Homo sapiens: one gene and its partners. The protein of the gene in region 1 purifies or fractionates together with the protein of each later gene. This does not show direct contact. Each region holds a gene or a part of one and is shown in the gene's direction. Other genes may lie near its edges.

Evidence for each region.
Region 2: the proteins of MBNL1 (region 1) and TREX2 purify together in Homo sapiens (affinity purification with mass spectrometry; one large-scale study listed by BioGRID and IntAct). This does not show direct contact.
Region 3: the proteins of MBNL1 (region 1) and FAM162A purify together in Homo sapiens (affinity purification with mass spectrometry; one large-scale study listed by BioGRID and IntAct). This does not show direct contact.
Region 4: the proteins of MBNL1 (region 1) and PKP1 purify together in Homo sapiens (affinity purification with mass spectrometry; one large-scale study listed by BioGRID and IntAct). This does not show direct contact.
Region 5: the proteins of MBNL1 (region 1) and PICALM purify together in Homo sapiens (affinity purification with mass spectrometry; one large-scale study listed by BioGRID and IntAct). This does not show direct contact.
Region 6: the proteins of MBNL1 (region 1) and SEPTIN8 purify together in Homo sapiens (affinity purification with mass spectrometry; one large-scale study listed by BioGRID and IntAct). This does not show direct contact.
Region 7: the proteins of MBNL1 (region 1) and NSDHL purify together in Homo sapiens (affinity purification with mass spectrometry; one large-scale study listed by BioGRID and IntAct). This does not show direct contact.

Annotation. Positions count from the first base shown.
Region 1 is NC_000003.12:152,429,429-152,432,928, forward strand, and holds part of MBNL1 (muscleblind-like protein 1), read left to right. Parts: intron 1-3,288; coding exon 3,289-3,492; intron 3,493-3,500. UniProt on the Homo sapiens protein: Mediates pre-mRNA alternative splicing regulation. Acts either as activator or repressor of splicing on specific pre-mRNA targets. Inhibits cardiac troponin-T (TNNT2) pre-mRNA exon inclusion but induces insulin receptor (IR) pre-mRNA exon inclusion in muscle.
Region 2 is NC_000023.11:153,443,973-153,447,441, reverse strand, and holds TREX2 (three prime repair exonuclease 2), read left to right. Parts: upstream 1-1,385; 5' UTR 1,386-1,433; intron 1,434-1,946; 5' UTR 1,947-2,011; coding exon 2,012-2,722; 3' UTR 2,723-2,969; downstream 2,970-3,469. UniProt on the Homo sapiens protein: Exonuclease with a preference for double-stranded DNA with mismatched 3' termini. May play a role in DNA repair.
Region 3 is NC_000003.12:122,387,182-122,390,681, forward strand, and holds part of FAM162A (protein FAM162A), read left to right. Parts: intron 1-3,500. UniProt on the Homo sapiens protein: Proposed to be involved in regulation of apoptosis; the exact mechanism may differ between cell types/tissues.
Region 4 is NC_000001.11:201,328,506-201,330,997, forward strand, and holds part of PKP1 (plakophilin-1), read left to right. Parts: intron 1-256; coding exon 257-331; 3' UTR 332-363; intron 364-1,568; 3' UTR 1,569-2,492. UniProt on the Homo sapiens protein: A component of desmosome cell-cell junctions which are required for positive regulation of cellular adhesion.
Region 5 is NC_000011.10:85,958,880-85,961,084, reverse strand, and holds part of PICALM (phosphatidylinositol-binding clathrin assembly protein), read left to right. Parts: intron 1-307; coding exon of another isoform or gene 308-400; exon of another isoform or gene 401-410; intron 411-2,024; coding exon 2,025-2,039; 3' UTR 2,040-2,205. UniProt on the Homo sapiens protein: Cytoplasmic adapter protein that plays a critical role in clathrin-mediated endocytosis which is important in processes such as internalization of cell receptors, synaptic transmission or removal of apoptotic cells.
Region 6 is NC_000005.10:132,767,240-132,770,739, reverse strand, and holds part of SEPTIN8 (septin-8), read left to right. Parts: intron 1-3,500. UniProt on the Homo sapiens protein: Filament-forming cytoskeletal GTPase. May play a role in platelet secretion. Seems to participate in the process of SNARE complex formation in synaptic vesicles.
Region 7 is NC_000023.11:152,851,563-152,855,062, forward strand, and holds part of NSDHL (sterol-4-alpha-carboxylate 3-dehydrogenase, decarboxylating), read left to right. Parts: intron 1-3,500. UniProt on the Homo sapiens protein: Catalyzes the NAD(P)(+)-dependent oxidative decarboxylation of the C4 methyl groups of 4-alpha-carboxysterols in post-squalene cholesterol biosynthesis. Also plays a role in the regulation of the endocytic trafficking of EGFR.

The DNA of each region.
Region 1 (3,500 bases):
TATGTCTTTCAGGAACAGAGATACTTACAAATCATTATCACAAGAATATAGTCAGTATCAAATATACCAATTACATTGTTATATGTTATCCTTCAGAGAAAACAGGATGCCACTTGATAACAACATTGCATTAATATCTGTCTTTGAGATTCTGCTGAACCCCCTGCAGGTTAGCTTTTGGAATAGAAAACTGGCAGTAGTGCAGGTCAAGTGCTTTCCTAATCTGATTTCTCTGATTAGGGCACTCTCTGATGGGGCTAGCAGTGACCTATCTTCAACATGGCGCTCCTTGAAAAAACAATATAACTAAAGTGATGTAACAAATTTACAAAAATTTAAAATAAATGAAGGAATGGTGTGTGTTTGTGTGTGTGTGTGTGTGTGTCTGTCTGTCTGTCTGTCTTTTGGAATCAAGTTTCAAAGTATAAAGCTATTGTTACTGATTGTCTGCCTGTTCGGCAAATAGCTCTACTTATCGAAAGAGGGAACAATTTGAGATAGTGCTTGCTGAATAGTTGATGTTTCACATTTTTAAACGCTCCTACCGACTTTACTTGGGGACAGTGCCCTAAAATTGTTCAGATTTGAATTTGCTCTGCTGAATTAAAGTGAAAGATCAATTGTCTTGATGACTCTATAGAAACAACTCAGGAAATATTATTGCCAGTTATTAAAAGCAGTATTTTTACATAATAAAAGTATTATTCTGCCTGTAATGTGCAACAGCTGCATCATATGCATTTTTAGATTTCCAGTGTATTTTATTTGACGAGATTTAGAGAGCTGAGTTTTATTAGCCTCTGGTCTCATTTTATTAAAATAAAAATTGCTTTTTCTTCCAAAAACATTTTTAAATTTGACCTTTGCTTTTAAATAATTATAGTAGATTATGTGCAATAATATAAACATCTCAATAACTTTCTGAAGTATACATTAAAAATGCACTATCTGGAAATACATGTTTATTCATAGTAAAAGAATGCAAAGAGGAATGATAATGAATAGCTTCTGTTGTCCATTTGCTAAACTAGTCTGTTAGTCCCCTGACATAGACTCTTTTAGTCTTCTATGCTAAATTTCTTATAATTCTTAAATGACTAATATAGAAATTAGGGTGCTGGTCTGGCTGGATTTTCATATGCAATCTGACAATGTATAACAAAGTACAAGTTTAACCTGAATATCCTTGAATAGAAATCCAAGTTCAACATATATTCAGTATACAATCAATCCTTGTCCTGCTGTCACCTGGGCAGAGAGTGGACAGTGGCACAGCATTAAGTCAGCTGCGGCTCAGGGAAGTGTTGGTGGACAGAGAATGCCCTAGGCCCTAGTTTCTGACAGCTTGTTGATAAGATTTGGAATGCACAGATAGTTCTTGTTGTCTGCAGGTTGCTGCTTTGTGCTGGGAGGGGTTGGGGATTAGAGGTGCTACTTGAGGGCACTTCATCAGGCAAGAGCCATCGACCTGGCAGAGCAGCTAAACATGGCATTCAAACCAACATGTTCAGAGGCATAATTATTTTAAGTTGAAATGGTATAATCTATATTGTATTGTTTCTTCTCAATGAATCACATTAGGTATTACATATTCTGTTTTTTCATATTTTTGTTAGTAAAAATGTATAGCTAAATGCAAAGAGTTTGTTTCCCAAGCAATTTTTGAGGTCAACAGAAGAGTTCCCTAAGAAAGGCCTTCTTAACATTGACAGTATTGACTTTTGGGGCTGGATAATTCTTTGTTGCGAGGGGCTGTCTTGTATGTTGTAGGACACTTAGCAGCATCCCTGGCGTCCATCCATTGAATATAATAGTTCCCCTCCAGCTGTGACAACCAAAAATGTCTTTAGACATTGCCAGGTGTCTCCTGAGAGGCAAAATAACTCAGTTGAAAACCACTGCCCTAAGAAAAAGGGAATACTTGAAATTCATTTTATTTTTCTAAATATAGAATCAGGGCCAGAGTGAATAGAGGATATATTTTATCTTTTAACAAATTTCTTTTGTACTATAAGAATTACATTTGTAATATATACCTTATATTGCAAAAAGTTTTACTACAGAGCTCTCTTGAATACTACATATATTCAGATATCATGTAACTTCTTATTCCTGTCAGATGGCAGAATTAGTTATTAATACATTCTAATGTCTCTTTTATTCTAAAGAGTCTTCTATAATTCTGTTCATTACTGCTGAGTAAAGAAAATAAATTGTTAAATATTACCTTAAAGAACAGCATCCGTTTTGCCTACAAGCTTTTGTGTTTCAGAAACAAACATTATTAAACGAAGCATTAAACTTCAAGAATTAGAATTGAGACTCTATTAGGAAGTTAAAAATGTACTATGAATAAGGTATGAAATTGTGTTCTGTTATACTTTAAATACTAGAAAAACAAATTGTTAGATTTCAGGTAAATTAATGCTATTCAAGAACAAATATATTTTATGATATGCAAGTTTGCATATCAACAAATAGAAACAATCCTTATATATCCACGAAAGCATTTCTGGAAGAAATTCTGTCTTGTAGCAGTTTATTCAGTGCTGCCATATGTATTTCCTTGACCAATCATGTAGCATTTCTTTAGTAGCAGTTCTACTTCAAACTTCACATTTCAGACTTGTTTTCCCCTAATAAGGTGTGATAGGCTAGTGGAACACTTATAATTTCCCCCAGGAAAATCACCATCAAGTAAATATACCAAACACTTTATCTTATGTGCTCAAAAGGCAAGGTGTCATCATCACCTTTCACATACCCCATGAGATTTATTTACAGCTTACATTGACTGTGAAACTCTTTTATCCCCTGGGAGTTCTACTTTATTTATTCCAGATAATAGGACACTTGCAACCTATTAACAGTTGTAAACAGGTCTTTCAAGTACATCTGACATAGCAATTACAAAATGTATTTGTTAGACAAATATCTAGAATTAAATCAGGACAAAGATGAAGATTAGATGACCACAAGAAGTTTCTGCATAGTTTATCTATTTTTCAAAAAAAAAATACAAGTATTATAGACCCTCAGCTACAAAATTCCAGTGAATAATTTAATGGATATTTTACTTATTATATTTTAGAAAAACATTGATTTGATGAATGTTTATTTAATAAAACAGCCTTACCCTAAATGATAGTAAATGAACACAGGATTAAAGGGAAGGAGGGAAGGCCTAAGGAAGAATGGATAGATGGATGGAGGACAAATGTATAATTAAGAATATCAACTTTGAGCTGAGACCTGCATGTTAAATTTTGCTTTTATTTTATTTTTCAGCCAATGTTTTCAGTTGCACCAAGCTTAGCCACCAATGCATCAGCAGCCGCCTTTAATCCCTATCTGGGACCTGTTTCTCCAAGCCTGGTCCCGGCAGAGATCTTGCCGACTGCACCAATGTTGGTTACAGGGAATCCGGGTGTCCCTGTACCTGCAGCTGCTGCAGCTGCTGCACAGAAATTAATGCGAACAGACAGACTTGAGGTAGGAAT
Region 2 (3,469 bases), on another chromosome or scaffold:
CCTGTGCGAGACGCACCCCTCAGCCGCCCTCCTTGAGTGCCCCTGGATCCCCCGCGGGGTACCAGTTTCCTGCTCCTCCCTGGCTGGGCGCTCAGCTCTGGGCTGGGGAATTCAGCCTGACTGGTTGTCCAGGAAGATGCTGTCTGGGCTTCCCAGGGTGACCCAGTATCTCCCTGAGCAGTGTGCCTGTCACAGCTGCCTCCCTCCCTGTGAGTACCGGAACAGGCGTGACTGGTAGGGCCTCTGCCTCCTTGGGGCCATTGTACCTGCTGCTGCCCGCCCCACCCTGCTCCCTCCTGGCACCATCTCCTTTGCTTCCCCAAGGTCCCTGTGGGCACACAAGGCAAGGAGGCCAGGAGGAGCCAGGTGCCAGACCCCCCTCCATCCCAGTCGCCTGAGGCATCCCCCAGCCACCACTGTGAGAGGTGGGAGGCCGGGCAGGCCTGTGGTCACCATGGTGCAGGTGCACCACCTGATTTATAGGCCAAGGGACTCCTCTTGGTCACCTCTCTGTGCCCCCAGCATGGGGCTGGCCCTGCAGTGCACCCACCATCAAGGGCTGTTGTCTCTTGCTCCAGAATGAGGTCTTCAGGGCGCCACTGCTCGCAGGACCGGGAAGGACCTGGTGCCCTTTGCCTGGAGCGGGATAGACAGGGCAGGTCCCTGAGCCTGGGGTCCGAGGGGCTGGGCTTCACTCCTCCTGTAGTCCCGGCGCTCCTGGCCCACCCCCTAACGTTGCTTATCTGTGGTGGAGGAAGCATTAGCTCAGCTGCGGCCTGCACAGCTCCCGGGCCAGGCCCACCTCCCTTCCTTCCCCAGCAGCCACTGTTAGGTGCACGGTAGACATGATGAAGCGACGTCCTTAAAGCAGATAGCATCTCCCGAGGCTGCCCCATCCCTAGGTTTTGGGGGAGCACCCCTTCCCCTTTGGAGGCTGAGCACGGCATGTGTGGGCACCTTGGTCACACTCCAGAGCTCGCTTCATCCCCACGAGCGGCACCTGATCTCCAGTGACGGGGAGACTGAGGCCTGGCAAAGAGGACCTGTTGCCTTTGTGTAACTGGCCCCAGCATGGGGGAGGCATTGGCCCCAGCATGGGGGAGGCATTGACCCCAGGCCTGCCAGGCCTGGCAGCCACAGCCTGGCTAGGTGGAGGTTACTGCCTTCCGCACCACTCTGGCTTCCTCCCCGTGCCTGTGAAGAGCTCGGGGCCTGCTTCCTAATTTGTAAACACGGGGCGTGTGTCTCAGTGGCTGTGAGCTAGCGAGGGGGTGGCGAGCGAGCCGGCTGCGCAGGTCCTGAGGCCCCAGGCCTCATTGTTGGCCAACAGGCAGCTGGGGGCGGGCTGCGGCCGCTGATTAAAGGCCGCCTAGAGCAGCCTGTGTGGCGACAGGTGCCCAGAAGCCCAGGAAGCCGGTCAGTGCCCGCCCCAGGTAAGCTGGTGTGGTGGGGTTGGCAAGGACAGTCTCCCCGGGAGCCTGGGGGCAAGCAGGCAGAGGCCAGCTCGGGACCAGCACCTGTGTGCCAGGGACAAGGGTGGGGAGGTCGAGCCCAGCGGGAGCTGGGTGCACTGCATGGGCTCTTTCGGGTGGCTGCTTGCCTGCTTCCCGGCAGCTGGTTCCAGGGCTGGAGACCCAGTGTGCTATGCCCCAGGTTCCCAGCCAAGGCATTCCGGTGAAGGGGCTGGACCCCGCCAAGGTGCGGTCCCTGAGCTGCCTCTGCCTCTCCCAATCCCTGCTGGGGACTGTGGCTGGAGGCAGGCAGTAGAGCGCTCTGAGGCCTGCCTTTTCTGTTCAGTAGGTGACAGGAGTGGGGCTGACGCTCCCAGAGCCAAAGGTCACAGGTGCTGTGGTCGGGGGTGGCAGGAAGTGAGCCCCAGAAGGGTCAGAGCTTTGGCTAGGGGGAGGATGGTACACAGCAGGGCCCGGGCGAACCCCTCTCTCCAGTCCTCAGGGTTTGTGCCTCTCGCTCGGACAGTTTGAGGACTTGCTATCCCCGTGGGAACATCACCATGTCCGAGGCACCCCGGGCCGAGACCTTTGTCTTCCTGGACCTGGAAGCCACTGGGCTCCCCAGTGTGGAGCCCGAGATTGCCGAGCTGTCCCTCTTTGCTGTCCACCGCTCCTCCCTGGAGAACCCGGAGCACGACGAGTCTGGTGCCCTAGTATTGCCCCGGGTCCTGGACAAGCTCACGCTGTGCATGTGCCCGGAGCGCCCCTTCACTGCCAAGGCCAGCGAGATCACCGGCCTGAGCAGTGAGGGCCTGGCGCGATGCCGGAAGGCTGGCTTTGATGGCGCCGTGGTGCGGACGCTGCAGGCCTTCCTGAGCCGCCAGGCAGGGCCCATCTGCCTTGTGGCCCACAATGGCTTTGATTATGATTTCCCCCTGCTGTGTGCCGAGCTGCGGCGCCTGGGTGCCCGCCTGCCCCGGGACACTGTCTGCCTGGACACGCTGCCGGCCCTGCGGGGCCTGGACCGCGCCCACAGCCACGGCACCCGGGCCCGGGGCCGCCAGGGTTACAGCCTCGGCAGCCTCTTCCACCGCTACTTCCGGGCAGAGCCAAGCGCAGCCCACTCAGCCGAGGGCGACGTGCACACCCTGCTCCTGATCTTCCTGCACCGCGCCGCAGAGCTGCTCGCCTGGGCCGATGAGCAGGCCCGTGGGTGGGCCCACATCGAGCCCATGTACTTGCCGCCTGATGACCCCAGCCTGGAGGCCTGAGCACCAGGGCCACCTCCTGTGCCATGGACAGTGCCAGCCTCCACCGTTCAGCTGGCCTCTACCACCCCCGGCTCCTCCTATCTGGGCAGCCTCAGGTCCGTGCACCTGCCAGGCCTTCCCTGGCTGCCTGACCAGCCATACGGCCCTGGATTCCTCTCCAGGCCCCGCTTCCAGGGCCGTGCTCTCCCGGCTGGCCTGGGTGCCCAGCAGAGTTTGCTGTTTCCCAATAAACATTGCCAACTACTCACCCTCCGACTAGCTGGCCAGATACTAGGGGCTGGACTCCCTCGACCCCCTGCTGAGCAGGGCCAGGCGGTGAGCCATGCCAGGGGCCAGCACAAGACCTCCAGGGCCGCCCCCCTATGGCCTCTCCTCGCGGTGAGGACCGTGGGTGGCTGGGTAGGGAGACGTCAAGCTCTTGGGTTGGTCTGAGGGCTGATGGGTTGTGGCTGTGGGCTGATTGCCGCCCATCTGCATTGTCACCCCAGAGGCCCAAAGAAGCCATGAGTAGGGCCTTAAGCCCACAGAGCCGGCCGCCTGCCTGGGCACAAAGCTCAGCTGCAGCGCTTGCCCGCCGTGGGACCTGGAGTCTCTGTCCCTGCTCTGTGAAGTGGTAACAGGGTGAAATGTTAAGAAACGGGGTGCTGGGGAAAAGGGAGGTGCCCCCACATGTGGGCATGCACATGTACATGTACATGCTAAGGGCCCTGACGGTGCACGGAGCAGAGGTGGGGTGGCTGGTGCTGT
Region 3 (3,500 bases), about 30 Mb from region 1:
AAGAATAAAATAGATATAACTTTTAGGATATTGTATCTTTCCACAGAATGATTATTAGTTCAAAGGAATGGAATGACCTTACAAGAATGTTTCTTATTGAAAGAAAGTTTTGCTCCCCTAAACTCTGTTGACTGGTCAGATTTGAAAATGAATTTGTTACCGTCATTGTTACCAATGTAATGGACTATGGGCTGCCTTCCTTTTAGTTTAACCCACATCTCAGAGCATTAGAGTAGAGAGGTATCTTAGAAGTCAGGTAATTTAGTCCTCTAATTTTTACAGATGAGGAAACTTAAGGGCCAAGAAGGGAATCAGCTTGCCAAGGACCACACAGGTACAGACCTGGGACATAGCCAGTATCCCCTGGCTCCCATTCTGATTTTATTTCTACCACATTCTGCTACCTTATTCTTTTTGTTTGTTCTTGCTAACCAAACCTAAATGAGAACGTACGCATTTTAACTACCCCCACATTTGGCTTTACTTATTGCTCCTTTCCAGGTCTTGCCAAGTATTTATTGAGTACACAATGGATGCCCTGTGTGTATACTGTGAAGGCTCTAAAATGAATGGACTGCCCCACTCCTAGGGCTGATTTATTGCAATGAACAAACAAACATATATAATATACCATTGGCTTCAAGAATTCTGAGATTCTTGAAGGCTCCATTGAAATGAAGGGGTGTGAGAGTGATGTGAGCACATGTAGGGGCGGTAATGAGTTGTGAGCACATGTAGGGGCGGTAATGAGTCTGAAAAAGGATATGAGAGAGGAAAGATTACCTTAGGGATTTTGATCAGGAGGCAATAGGAGGTAAAGTGTAGTGTTTGGAGACGTTTGAACCAAATGAATTTGGACCAAAAAAACCTTTTAGCAGGAGAAGTAACACAAGAAACATTTCTGGAAAATTAACTCAGCAACTACATACCAGTTGAATTGCTGCTACCTATGAAGATATTACAGTAACTGATGTGTGAGGTGATGATGGAAATAACGAATATATTTAGGAAGTGTCTTGAAGAAAGGATGAGTTTGGAGATACTGAGTAAGGAAGGACTTAAAGACAAGTTTTTTAATGTTGAGGACTACAGAAGTATTGCCTCATTGTCAGAAATAAGAAAGTTGGAAAAATAATCAGAAACGCCATCAAAGATTTGTGTTAGTTTGGCAGAGAAGATGGTGCATTATTGAGTAGGTTTAGGTGGCACTGAGTTATAGGTTGTGAGAGGTTGAAGACCTGAGGGCAAAGGAAGAGTAAAGTTATGGAGATAAAGATATGGGAGCAATTAGTCTGGAGTTGATTTTTAAAACAGAATGGAGGAGTCCTTCCAGAGAGTAGCACAGAATAGAAGCAAGGACTAAGCCTTGGAGGTGTGACATGGTGTAAATAATAGGAACTGGGAAAGAAGACATTAAAGAAGATTGGTCATAGAGGTTGGAGATGAAGTGAGAGAATTTGGTGGTACAATGTAAGGAGGCATTGAATCCTTGTAGAAAGATGAGATCAGTCGAATCAAATGGCCACAAAAATGGGAAGAGTAGAGTCAGAAGGGCTAATGATGAGAATCTAAAAAAATGTATTCATGACCGGGCACGGTGGCTCAAGCTTGTAATCCCAGCATTTTGGGAGGCCGAGGTGGGCGGATCACGAGGTCAGGAGATCGAGACCATCCTTGCTAACACGGTGAAACCCTGTCTCTACTAAAAACACAAAAAATTAGCCGGGCGTGGTGGTGGGCGCCTGTAGTCCCAGCTACTCAGGAGGCTGAGGCAGGAGAATGGCGTGAAGCCGGGAGGCAGAGCTTGCAGTGAGCTGAGATCACAGCACTGCACTCCAGCCTGGGCAACAGAGCAAGACTCCGTCTCAAAAAAAAAAAAAATGTATTCATATGACTAGAAAGAGGTCACTAATGTTGGTAGAGTAATTTTAGTAAAATGATTGGAGAAGGAAACATTGTAGCAAAATAAAGTGTGGGTGGTGAAGTGAAGTAGTAGATACATGCCATTTATTCAATCATTTGAGCTATGAAAAAGAGGAAATAAGAATTTTATTAATAGTACCTGTTGAGAACAAGTGAATGCTTTGTCCAACATAGTGGACCTTCAGTGTTATTGTAGAGTAATAAGACAGAATTCTCAGTAACTACTAGTAGAAGTTACTGGAGAAGTAGTCAGCCTTTCTGGAAAGTAGTATAGATGGATAGATAGATAGATAGATAGATAGATAGATAGATAGATAGATAGATAGATAGATGAGATAGATAGATGGAAACTTAAAGGGGTTCATACCCTTTTACCCTTCACTTCCAGGATTTTATTCTAAGGAAATAATCAGAAATACCATCAAAGATGTATGTAGAGAACTGTTCATTGAAACATTACTTATAACACTGAAAAATTGGAAAGAAATCAAGTTGTAGGGAATTACTACATTCAGATTATAGCTGTGTGTCGGGTTTTATACAGCTATTAAAAGTATTAATATCTTGGAAAGTATTTGTGACATAGCAAGATACAGTATTATCTGATTATGAAAAATGTATATGTTTTATGTAAGTATAGGAAAGGTCTGAAAAGAAATATTAATGCACCAAGTTGTTATCCCTAAGTGCTATGATTATGAGTGCTTTTATTTTTCTTCACATCTTTTTTTAACTTCCAAATTTTCTGTAATGAGCAAGTGTTACTTTTATCATTTAAAGTTTGTTTTACTAAAAGCTTTTTACATAACATGGTGTGTAACAACTTGGTGGTACAAAGGTTTTTACATAGTGAGACCCGATCTCTACAAAACAAATTTTTTTAATTAGCTAGACATGGTGGCATCTGCCTGTGGTCCCAACTACTCCAGAAGATGATACAGGAGGATCGCTTGAGCCCGGTTCAAAGTTACAGTGAGCTATGATCTCTCCACTGCCCTTTACCCTAGGTGACAAAGTGAGACCTTGTCTCTAAAAAAAAAAATAAGTTTTTTAGTTTTGATTTTAAAGATGGGGGAGATAACATTTGGCAGGAAAAAGGCAGTGGAAAATAAGGATAAGTTTGGTACGACATCCCTCAGCAGAGGGATTACTACTTAAGAATAAAGGAAGACTGGTATTTCTTCAAGCCTGCAGGGAAGGATGAGAAAACGGATATAGGGAGTCTGTTTCTGTCACAAAGCCCAGGTCAACAGCTAAGGCCTAGAGAGTTTCAGATAGACACTCTGGGGAGTGGGTTGTAATATTGATTCTCTGATTCCCAGAGAGTTGTCATATCTCCAGTCACATCACCTATGGTTTTCTCCAAGAGGACCTTGAAAGATTCTGAGAAAGAAAAAGCATCCCTACCTTTCCTCACTGTCTATCATGGGGTTGGAAAGGATATTTATGGAAAGGAGGGGACTACCAGGAGAGAAGCTGGTACTTCAACCAGCCTCACCCTGGCTGACCACTATAGCCTCCAGCTAGCAATGATATTTCTAAGGCACTGGTTTTCAGATTATGGGTCCCCCATAGCA
Region 4 (2,492 bases), on another chromosome or scaffold:
CTCAGGTTTCTGCAAATGCAAGTAGGAAATTCACATGTGTCAGTGGAAGTTCAAACACATTGCACCGACTCATGGAGAGTTATTATGTTTTGTTACACAGTTACTGAGGCCAGTTTTCGCCCTGACACATGTACTTAGTGATAAGAGAGAGGCTGTGTGAGCCGAGGTTGCTCTGGGAGGGCAGTGGACAGTGTCTGACCCCACAGCAAGCCCCACACAGTTTTGTGTCATTTGGTTGCTGTTTCTCCCTTTGCAGCAAGGTTTCGATAGGAACATGCTGGGAACCTTAGCTGGGGCCAACAGCCTCAGGAACTTCACCTCCCGATTCTAAGAAGAGACTGTCCAAGCAAGTTAGGCTTGCAGGTAAGAATCACCCCACCCTCAGGGATGCCTCTGGGACCACTGCAACAGCCTCAGCCAGTCTCAGAGACAAGGGCTAGGCCTGTGCTCCCAGGGACACAGAAGCATCCTTTTGCCTGGCTCTGGACAACACAAGCAGTTGTGTAGACTGCTTGGCTGGGGGCGTAGTTTGTCCCACCCTCAGGACGTTAGGGGTGTATAATGTCCTGGGAGTTTCAGAGGGGTCAGAGGGTCTGGGCAGGACTGCTAGGTACAAATGTGTGGGTTGTACACTGAACAACACAGGTGGTGCCCTTCACATGGACTACAGTGAGTTCTACAATATGGATAACTGGAGTTCTAGAATATGTCATTCTGGGCTTGGCCATACACAGCTCACTTTTTTATCCTTTTATAATTCACTTTCCACTCTCTGCACATGCCCAGTGTGGACAAGTTTATTTCCAGCTGATGATTCTAGGCCCCCAAAACTCAGAACCAATCCTATGATGAAGGCTTGCCAACCTCAGTGTTCATTGGAATTATATGGGTTGCTTGCTAAAATGCACACACTTGGCCCAGCCCCAGCTATTCTGACTCAATAGCCCTGGAGTGGGATCCAGGAAAGTCTATTTTTAAACAAGCGTCTAAAGTGTTTCTGATGCGGGTAAACTGAGAATCACAAATAGAGATACTCCAGCCAGATGTCATCACCCCTAGAGAGGGGCCTCAGGGGCAGCCCAGCATGGAGCCATCTGCAAATAGCCTGGGATCAAGACAGGGTCTCCTGAGCTAAGGGGGACCTCTTAACCAGGCTGTCTGCCAGCACCCCCCACCCCAATCCCTGGTGGGGAGAGAGGACTGTAACTTTGGTCTGGATGAAGGTTAAATAAGACTTCAGATATCCTCTCCTAGTAAACAAGCTGCAACAACTTGAAGGCAGAAAAGGGGAAAGAGATTCGGTTTGGCAAATCCTTAATGAACACCACCTTCTTTCTTAGTGAGGAAGACGGTGGGCAGGGGACACTGTGGCAGGGTGGCAGACAAAGCTGACAAGCTTCTGAATCCACAGGGCAATCTATAAATGTGTCTAGGGCAGCCTTGAATCCAGTCTCAGGCCAGGGCACACTTGAGGGCCGATGTGAGAAGAGGGTGGCAGTACAGGCTGGGCTTGTGGTGTGGAAACATCTCACTGTAAACACTAACTGGAGGACTTTCTCCTTTTCCAGGAAGATATGACCCAGCTGAGAAGCCCTCAGGCCTCGCTGGATGGGGTTTTCTGTCCATCCTATGCAGTATTTGGGAAAGTTCACAAGAAACTGAGAAGAAACCTAAAAACTGTGGATAGTGGAAAGATTTTTAGATTTTTTTTTTCCTTGGGGAAACTGGCAGGCAATGGGGGTTAGGGAGGTTGGGGCGGTGGGGGCTTTCTTGAGTTAAAGGGGCTTATATGTGATGTCAATATTTCTTCCTCTGAGAAATGGTATATATATGTGTATAATGTAAGTGTGTGCATGCATGTGCGCGTGCATGTGTGTGTGTGTGAGTGTCTTAAAGCATAACCACAAACTGCAAAAAGCTAGGTAAGCTATTTTGTTGCAGCTCATAAGGTGGTGAAAAGGACTCTCCTGTGTTTCTTACTCATAGGCAAGGACAACATGTGCTTTTTGGTGAGCTGCTCATAATTCCTGAAATGTGTGGTGCCAGGGCAAGGGGGCCATCACTGCAGTCAGGCCCTCAGAGGAGTCCTGCAGGCTTCCTACCAGTGGTCTCCAGGGGTGCAGGAGTAACTGGGGCTGGGCCAGCCTCCCCACTTACAAGGCTGCTTTCCAGGAAGGGAGGTCTGGTGTATCTCATGGGAGAATCTGGGGTGTCTGTAATGTCACCCCTCCAGCAGCGCCACAAGGACTGAGGTTGGGTAGGTGTGGGGTTCCAGAGGACAGCAGGACACTCTCGCATACTTTGCCAAATGAGGCCTGCTCAGAGGAGTAGGAGCTGAAAGATGGTGCCTTCCACCCTCTTGGGCTGTGTGCCCATCAGAGCAGGCTCAGCCTGCAAAGGCCCTGCATTCAGAGGTCTTGTAATCTACTTGTTGCAGGAGAAAGAAGGTAAAAAATGATTTTTTTAAGAAAAGCTATTTTATTGCAGCTCTT
Region 5 (2,205 bases), on another chromosome or scaffold:
CATACACACATTAAAATTCTTAACCATGGGTCAGCTTATATCGACCTTTTGGGTAAAAGACATTATTCCTTTGAAACTTCAGAAGCACGAGTTTGTTTTCTGAAAAACACATGCCATTGCATACCTTTTAACTTGACATATGACTGAAACTTTTGTCTTAACAATCCATTTTCTACAAAGACTGCCCTTATATTTATTAAAGATGACAAAACCAAAACCACTTCTTCTTTCATACATTTTCTGCTTTCATGTTCTGTCATTCTGAGATCTTTTTTTCTTTCCCTCTCTCTGTCTTCTTTTCCCCCAGCTGTCGGCAGCATCCAGCCCCTCCAGTCACAGTCCTCACAGAGCTTCAGGAAAGGACCCCTTTGCAGAGCTCTCTTTGGAGGATTTCTTATAAATCACTTTAGGTATTGCTACTTGTTTTGGGAGATGGGGACTTAAATACTTAAAAACAATTACCAAACATTAAACACAATTCACGCTTCTCTTTCATTTCTTTAAAGGACTCTAGGCTCCCTCTCCTCCTCCTCCTCTTCCTCTATTCTTTAGGTGCAGAATGAAAAGATAGGACATAAGGAAAAACAACTTTTGGAAAATATCTGTAACATAATTATTTAAAGTAATCTCATCCACTGCTCACAGTAAATGGATGAGATCGGATAAAGTTTGCTTTTTAATTAAGGGCAAGTGAATACTTAAGCCCTTTCGATTAGAAGGATTCTGCATATGATCCACACTGCCTCTGTTTGCTGGAAGACAGTGTAATTTGTTCTTCTTGATGCTCTAGCCCCCAGTTTAGATATACCTTCTAGATCTTTGGGAGTTTATAGTCTTCTGATTTGGCAAGTTTATTAGCACATCTACTTCAGTAATCTTTGGATGGGCAGTTTAAGGGAAATTGTGAGTGAAATATCTTTGAATGAACAGTAGTACCCTATTGAAAAATATTTTTATGGCTCTTTCAGGTTCTTATTTATGTTAATAAAAAGACTTAGTATAATATTACTGTTCCCTTTATTGTCTCTAATTGTATATCATTTGGAAATAATATTTCAAATTTTGCTTCCCAAATGAGATTTTGCTTGTGGTATTTGTGCTTATGGAGAGATTTTTCTGAACTTGTCATGAAAAAATAGGTCATTGATCTTCTTTCTTTTCCTCCTCCACATGCTATTCCTCTATTTTTAGCAGTTAAGTATTTGGCCTGGATGTGGTTGCTTATGCCTGTAATCCCAGCACCCTGGGAGGCTGATGCGGGAGGATCACTTGGGGCTAGTAGTTCAAGATCAGCCTGGGCAATACGGTGAGACCCTAGTCTCTACCCCCACCCAAAAATTACCCAGGTGTGGTGGCGACTGTCTGCAGTCCTAGCTATTCAGGAGGCTGAGGCAGGAGGGTTGCTTGAGCCCAGGAGTTCCAATGAGCTTTTTTTTTTTTTTTTTTTTTTTGAGATGGAGTTTCGCTCTTGTCTCCCAGGCTGGAGTGCAGTGGCACGATCTCAGCTCACTGCAACCTCCACCTCCTGGGTTCAAGCCATTCTCCTGCCTCAGCCTCCCGAGTAGCTAGGATTACAGGCGCCCGCCACCACGCCTGGCTAATTTTTGTATTTTTAGTAGAGACGGGGTTTCACCATATTGGCCAGGCCAGTCTCGAACTCTCGAACTCACCTCAGGTGATCTGCCCACCTCAGCCTCCCAGAGTGCTGGGATTACAGGTGTGAGCTATGGTGCCCAGCCATTGAGCTTTGATCATGCCACTGCAATCCAGCCTAGACAGCAGAGCAAGACTCTGTCTCAAAAACAACAACAAAAAACATTATTTGGAAGTCCCTATATGTGTCAAATATTGAGCTTTCTGGCACATAAGTTGATAATACTGACTTTGTTTTATAAACAGGGTTTGTGATAAGCATGTTGTGAACACTTCTGGGCCAGTTAAATGGTAAAGACCACAAAGCATTTTTATTTATGAGAAGACATCCTACAATACAATGAATTAACATACCCACTTTTTTTTTCCAGATACAGTTTATGTAACTTGATGGAAGAAAATGGAATTACTCCAAAAAGACAAGTGCTCAAGCAGCAAAATCCTTACTTCCAGCAAAATCCAAACTGCTGTCTCTTAAATCTCTTAAACTCTCTTCTTCCATTAGAATGCTACAAGTAACTCAGTGAAGGCCCATGAAGGAAATTGGGACTA
Region 6 (3,500 bases), on another chromosome or scaffold:
TGGGGTCCAAGTTAAGTTGTCCTGCCTGAAGGCTCCTCCCCACAGAGCAGTCTGCCATGGGGCTTCCTGACTTGAGAATGGAGCCTGGCTGCAGGGTCCGTCCAGCTCACCCTCCCACCAGAGCCAGCTTACAGACCAGCAGGCCTTTGGCCCACACCAGCCCCCTGACATGTTGTATTGGGCCCTCATGGTATTCTCAGTTTGTATTGGTTGTCAATCTTTAAAAATTACAGAATTTCACATAAAAATATAGATTTCTGGGCCAGGCATGGTGGCTCACACCTGTAATCCCAGCACTTTGGGAGGCCAACGCAGGTGGATCACCTGAGGTCAGGAGTTCAAGACCGACCTGGCCAACATAGTGAAACCCCGTCTCTACTAAAAATACAAAAATCAGCCAGGCGTGGTGGTTGCGTGCCTGTAATCCCAGCTACTGGGGAGTCTGAGGCATGAGAATTGCTTGTACCTAGGAGGCGGAGGTTACAGTGAGCTGAGATCACACCACTCCAGCCTGGGTGACAGAGCCAGACTGTGTCTCAAAAAATACATACATACATATATATACATATATACATATATATATATATATATATACACACACATACACATATATACATATATATATATATACATATATACATATATATATACATATATACATATATATATATATATACACACACACACACACACACACATATATATATATGTGTGTGTATATATATATATATATATATATATATATATATATATATATGTATATATAGAGAGAGATTTTTGGGTTCTCTTTAAAAACGGGAAGATTTGGCAACACTAGATCTGTGTTCCCACAGTTGGCTGGCGTTGTGGAACTGTGGCCACCATGGATTGAGCATAAGCACAGGCTCTCCAGTTCTCTGCCATTCCCACCTCTCCCCGGGAACCCCCACGCTTGGCCAAGTTAGTGGCTGTCTTTCATCCAGCAGGCGGGGAGTGATGTGACTAGAAGTGTGGGTTTCACAGTCATGTTGTCTCCATTCAGATCCTGGCTTTGCTCTCCTGAGCAGTGTGGTCTTGGGCAAATTACACACTCTCTTGATGCCTCTATTGTCTCATCTAGACAATGGGGAGGCTGCTACGGCCTATGTCATAGGGCTGATGTGTGGACTAAATTAGATTAAATTAGGGTTGCGCAAAGCAAGCATGCAATACATGTTAGTTATGTCTGTTGTTGTTGCCATTGTTATTAAGGTGCTGCTCCCCTTCACCTATATATGTTACCTGCCTGGCTTCTAAAGGCATTTGAGTTTAGGCTTAGCCCTCTGAGGTCAAGGATCTGATGTCCTCATCTTTTCACTGGCAGCCATCTCAGTTCCTGGCACACAGCAGACATGTCCAGTGCGTGTGTGTTGAGTGACTGAATGAATGAGTTGGAAGCCTGCTAAGAACAGGGGAGGCAATGTAGCAGAGTGGTTTGGGACAAGAGCTTGGTCTGTTCTCAGGTCCCTGCTCTGCCCTGGTTAGTTCCCTAGCTTCTGTGTGCTTCAGTTTCCTCCCCTGTAAAATGGGGATAATCATGGAGTCTGTCATCCACAGTGAGGAAGGACCAAGTGAGAGCCTGGGTGTAAATCACTTGGCTTAGTTCACACATGGTGGTCCTCAGTGAGGTGTTGGTATCATCCCAGACGTCCCTTCCTTCCTTTGGTTGTGAATACTGAGATGTTTTACCTTCCACACTGTCCCTCCTTTCCTGGCTCTCCTCGCTTTCTCCCTGTTCCTCTGCATCCAAAGAGTTTTACTTTGGATCCTATGGCACCGAAGATGTTTCAGTTGCAAGTAATAGATAATACCACTCAACTAGCCTCAGCAATAAAGAGGATATGGCCAGGGGGAAGGGGAAAAGCCCAGAGATAGGGCAGACTCTGGCTCCCTCTTTTCTCTGTGATTTTCTTGGCTCTGCCATCCTGTGAGTAGACTGCAGCCTTAGGCTAGCTCCCCTAATGGTCTCAAGATGGTCATAAAGGCTCAACCTGCGTCACTTGCCTGTACTTGCACCGATCATGGCATCACGCTGATGGGCTCCCACCCTGGGAGTTGGAGCTGTGGTCTCACCCACCAAATTGCAGGGCTGGTAGCCACTGGGTCACCTGACTTTATTTCTGAGTCATGGTAGCTGAGATGTGCAGGAGGTCCTTCAGGGGCTGCTGGTTCCTCCTAGGTTGTAACCCCACTCAGGTTGGTAGAGATGCCTGGAGCAGGCACCCTGGAGTGAGCAATGCAACTTAGATCACATGTCGATGCCAAATCTATGATCAGGGAGTTGGCATTAGTGAGAGTTACCCCTCGGTAAAGCCTGGAGGTCAGATCAGTCTCCTGGGACCAGGTAACAACACTGCCTCCATCAGGGCCAGTGGCCATTCTGTGTGTGTACGTGTGTGTGTGCATGCATGCTCCATAGACTCATACCCCTGACTGGTCCCCGGGGCTCCTAAACAGGTATTGCCCCAGATGTGTGGCCCCTGCGATAACAGAGTGTAGCCTGGGTAACAACTTAGGGATGATGACCTCCCTGTACCCCACACTTCCACAGAGAGAGCCAAGCTGTGTGAGAGGAGGCCACTCTGCAGTTGCTGTGTGTGGATAGGTGGTTTATGTGAGACCCACCCCAAGAACCCCCAGTGCTACACTTAGCCTCTGGGGCCTAGAACTGTAAGAAAGTGGGGGAAAACAGGAATGGAATGGCCTCTGCTTCTCAGTAAGTGCTCTGCGGCTGCGTGTGTGTGTGTGTGTGTGTGTGTGTGTGTGTGTGTGTGTGTGGTTTCCAGACACAGCTGACTTGGTGGGGTTTGGCGGCAGACTACAGGATGTTGGATTGCATCCTGATTGTGTCACCCCTTGGAAGAAGAGGATGAATAAACACATAGCCTTCTCTGCAAGCACAGCACGCCTTAAATTTTGGAGATTTTCAGTCTTGCCTGAAAAGAAAAAAGCTCTAGACCGACTGTGTCCTCCATTTGATCCTCAAGCCGACACAAGGAGGTGGAACAGAGACTAAATAATGAAGCCCTGTGTAAGGTGGGCAGGTGCTCTGATGCCGTAGCAGTTGGAGGCTGTGTTCAGTAACTTATAAATGGTAGCATTGTCCAGCATGTTGGGCATAGTAATGGGAGGGAAGGAAGAACAGAAAACCTGACCTCCCCAACCTGCAGCCGACATCTAGAAGCTTATAGAATAGGTGGAGAATCAAGATGCATTAAAAAAGGATAACCAGTAGTACTAGGAAACAGGATAACTGCCAAGTGAGGGGTCTGGAACGTAAGTGCTTGGGGGCCAGGTGAGAGTGGGTGCCAAGGGAAAAGTAGAGTAGCTGTAGAGCCGAGGGGAGGGGCAGAGTTTGAAAAGAGAGCTCAGAGTTACCAGCTGGGCTGGAACCAGGCCAGTGAGGAAGGCCTGGAACACCATGCTAAGGGCTTTGGACCTGACCCAGCACCTCCTAGGCTTCATTAACTACTTTTATGTGG
Region 7 (3,500 bases), on another chromosome or scaffold:
ACGGTTGTTTTCTCTCCCGTGCTGCCCACACCTCCAGGCCTGGAGATGGGGTAGACATCTTTCATGCTCATCATTGCTGCCTCCGAACCGTTCTCCCTCATGCTGCTCTAAGCCTCTCCAGCTTTGAAGAGGATACCCTCAGACTGTACAAACCCCGACACCGTTCCCTCCTTGTGGTGGCCACCCACAGCCGCCTGCTCCCCTTCCCAGTGACTCCACATCATTTCTCAGTGATTTCAGCTCCTTTCTGGCATTATTATTGGTGAATTCAGCGTTCATGTAGATGACCCTACCAATGCCCTCGCCTCTCTCATCCTTGGCCTCCTCTCACCCAATGATGTTGCCCTCCACTCCCCTGTCATCACCAGTAAGCACGTCCTCTCCTTCTTCTCAGTTGCAGGCATTCTACTCTGAGCACTAGCTCCTCTCTGTCCAGCTCATGCCCTCTAGTGCCTCAGCTGTCCCGATTCCTTAACCCCACCCAGACATCCAGCCATGCCCACCATGGCTCAGCCTGTTCGTGCCTCACTGCCTTTAGTTCCCTGGTCTGCTTGTTCGCTTGCATAGTCTTCACCCCTTCCCCTTTCTCTTCTGGTTGTATGTATCCATAAAGTTTCTCCAGAGAAACACCAGCAGGGGGATGTGTGGAGAAGGGCAAGGAGAGAGATGGGTGGGTGAGACGGAGAAAGAGAGGTTGAGATTTAATTCACAGAATTGGTTTACATGATTGTGGGGGCTGACTAGGCAAGTCTGAAATTTGTAGGGCAGACCAGAAACTCAGGCAGGAATTGATGCTGTGGTCCCACGTTAGAATTTCTTCTTACAGAAACCTCAGTTTCACTTTTAAGGTCTTTGAACTGAGTATATACTGCCTGTCCAGAGTAGCAAGGGTAATCTCCTTACTTAAAGTCAGCTGGTTGTAGATGTCAACCACAGCTACAAAATACCTCTACAGCAACACCTACACTGTTTAATGGAGTCACCGGGGACTAGAGCCTGGCCCAGGTGGCAAATAAATGTGGCCACCACAGTGTACTTCACATTGTAACCCCCACCCTGGTTAAATCTTGCCTTGTGCATGGCCATGGCCCTCAAGCAGACCCTTGGTACCACCAAGCACCATCTCCACAAACCTGCCCACATCCACGTCTCTACTCAGCCTCCCCTGCTGTTCCCGAGGACGCCTCATCCCCACCAAAGTGCCCATCCTGGTGCCAGCTGGAAGCCACCTCCTCTTCCCTACCCAGTCACTGCCACCAGGGACCTTGAGGCAACCATATCTGGTGGTTGAATCTCAGTCCTCCTCTGACTTGGCCCTGTAGCAGCATCTGATGCTTTCTTTGCTTGCCTTCTGAGATACCACCTCACTCATTTCTCCTCCTGCCTCACTGATTGTCTCCTGATCACTATCATTTCTAAACTTTGCAGACTCCAGAACTTATTCTCTTTTCTTCTCCAAGTTTAGACAGTGTCACAGTGACTCCATCCCATCTCATGGATTAATTACTGTCTAGAAGCTGATGTGCTCCCTGCTTGTTATCTCCAACCCCTAGCTCTCTCAGGCACGTGTGTGTGTGTGTGTGTGTGTGTGAGCGTATGTGTGTGTATGCCTGCTGGACATCCCTGTTTGGATACCTCATGGACACTTCAAGCTTGCTACATCCAAAATTAAGCTCCTGGTTCCCTGACGCAAGCCCCTCCCCCACCACAGCAAACCTATTTCTGCTAAGTCTTCTCTATCTCCATAAATGGCCTACTCTGCTTTTCCAGTTCCATCAACCAAAAACCTTAGATTCATCCCTGCCCGATTCCTTTCTCTCTCATGCCCTTCATCCCATCCATCAGGAAATCTTGTTGGCTCCACTCAGAATAGATCCCCAATCCAACAACTTCTCACCCCTTCCATTGCTGCCACCCTGGTCCAAGCCACCATCACTGTCTCACCTAGATGTTAGAGGGACTCTTAATGGATAAATCAGATCACACCGCCCTCTGTACAGAAGCCTCCAGTGGCGTCCAGTCCCATGTCAAGCAAACAGAGGCCTCTGTAATCACCCATGAGGCCCTGCACGGCACGTCCCCACTACCTGTCTGGCCCACTTCCTCCCACACCCGCCTCATGGCTCTGCCCCAGGCACACTGGCCACCAACCAAGTTTCTGCCTCAGGACCTTTGCACTTGGTGTCCTTTCTGTCAGGAATGCTCTTCCTGAACCACAGAACTTGCTCCCTAGCTTCCTGTAAATCTCCAGCCACCCTGTGCTAAGGAACAGGCCCCCGCTGGTCTCCCTTACTCTGCTCTAGTTTCTGCATAACACCTGCCAGTACGGACGTCCTCTAGATTTACTTGTTTGTTTGCTTATTTGTCCTGATTGAAACATGATTGACCATGAGCGGATACAGAGCAGAGGAAATCTCTGAAATTTGTCCTCTCTACCATAGAATGTAAACTCCACAAAAGCAGGAATTTTGTTTTTCGATCACTGCTTTGTCCCCTCAAAGGAGACGAGAATCCTTAGCAAGCTTTCACTTCTCTCCAAAAGGCTCCCCCGCTGCCATGCTGTTGTTGCTAGTATGTTATTTCAGCTTTCCTTGAGTACAGATTTCAAGGGAACCCTCCAGCATGCCATGTTGTTCTCCAGCCACACTCAACTGCTCAGCCGCAAGCGTGGAGAAGGGGCGAGTTGCATTTAACCAGGGTTGGAGTTTACTAGACAAATTTAATAAAGGGAGAGGGGAACAAGGCAAAGGTGGTGCTGGTGGATCATGAAATCTAAGCTAAGTCCAAGGTCGATGTGATGTGGGTGAAAGACATGGCAGGAGAGGACCTTTTTTATTTTATTTTATTTTATTTTATTTTTATTTTTATTTTTTTAGACATAGTCTTGCTCTGTTGCCCAGACTGTGGCACAATCTAAGCTCACTGCAGCCTCCGCCTCCCAGGTTCAAGCGATGCTCCTGCCTCAGCCTCCCTAATAGCTGGGATTATAGGTGCCCACCGCCACACCCGGCTAATTTTTGTATTTTTAGTAGAGATAGGGTTTCACCATGTTGGCCAGGCTGGTCTTGAACTCCTTGTATCAGGTGATCCGCCCGCCTCTGCCTCCCAAAGTGCTGGGATTACAGGTGTGAGCCACTGCGCCCAGCCGAGAAGGACTTTTAAAATGTACTTTCACCTGGGTGTGGTGGTATGCACTTGTAGTCCCCCAGCTATTTGGAAGGCCAAGGTGGGAGGATCACTTGAGGCCAGGAGTTCAAGACTAACCTGGACTACATAACAAGACCCCCCCCATTTCTTTTTTTTTAAAAATGTGTTTTTATAGTCAGTAGAGAGAGAGAGAGAGAGAGGAGAGAGACAGATATACATACATATAGATAAAGTTTATGTATATATAGTTATATAGTTTTATACACACAATATGTATTACATAACACTTTTTTTTTTTTTTTTGAGACGGAGTCTTGCGCTGTCGCCCAGGCTGTAGTGCAGTGGCGTGATCT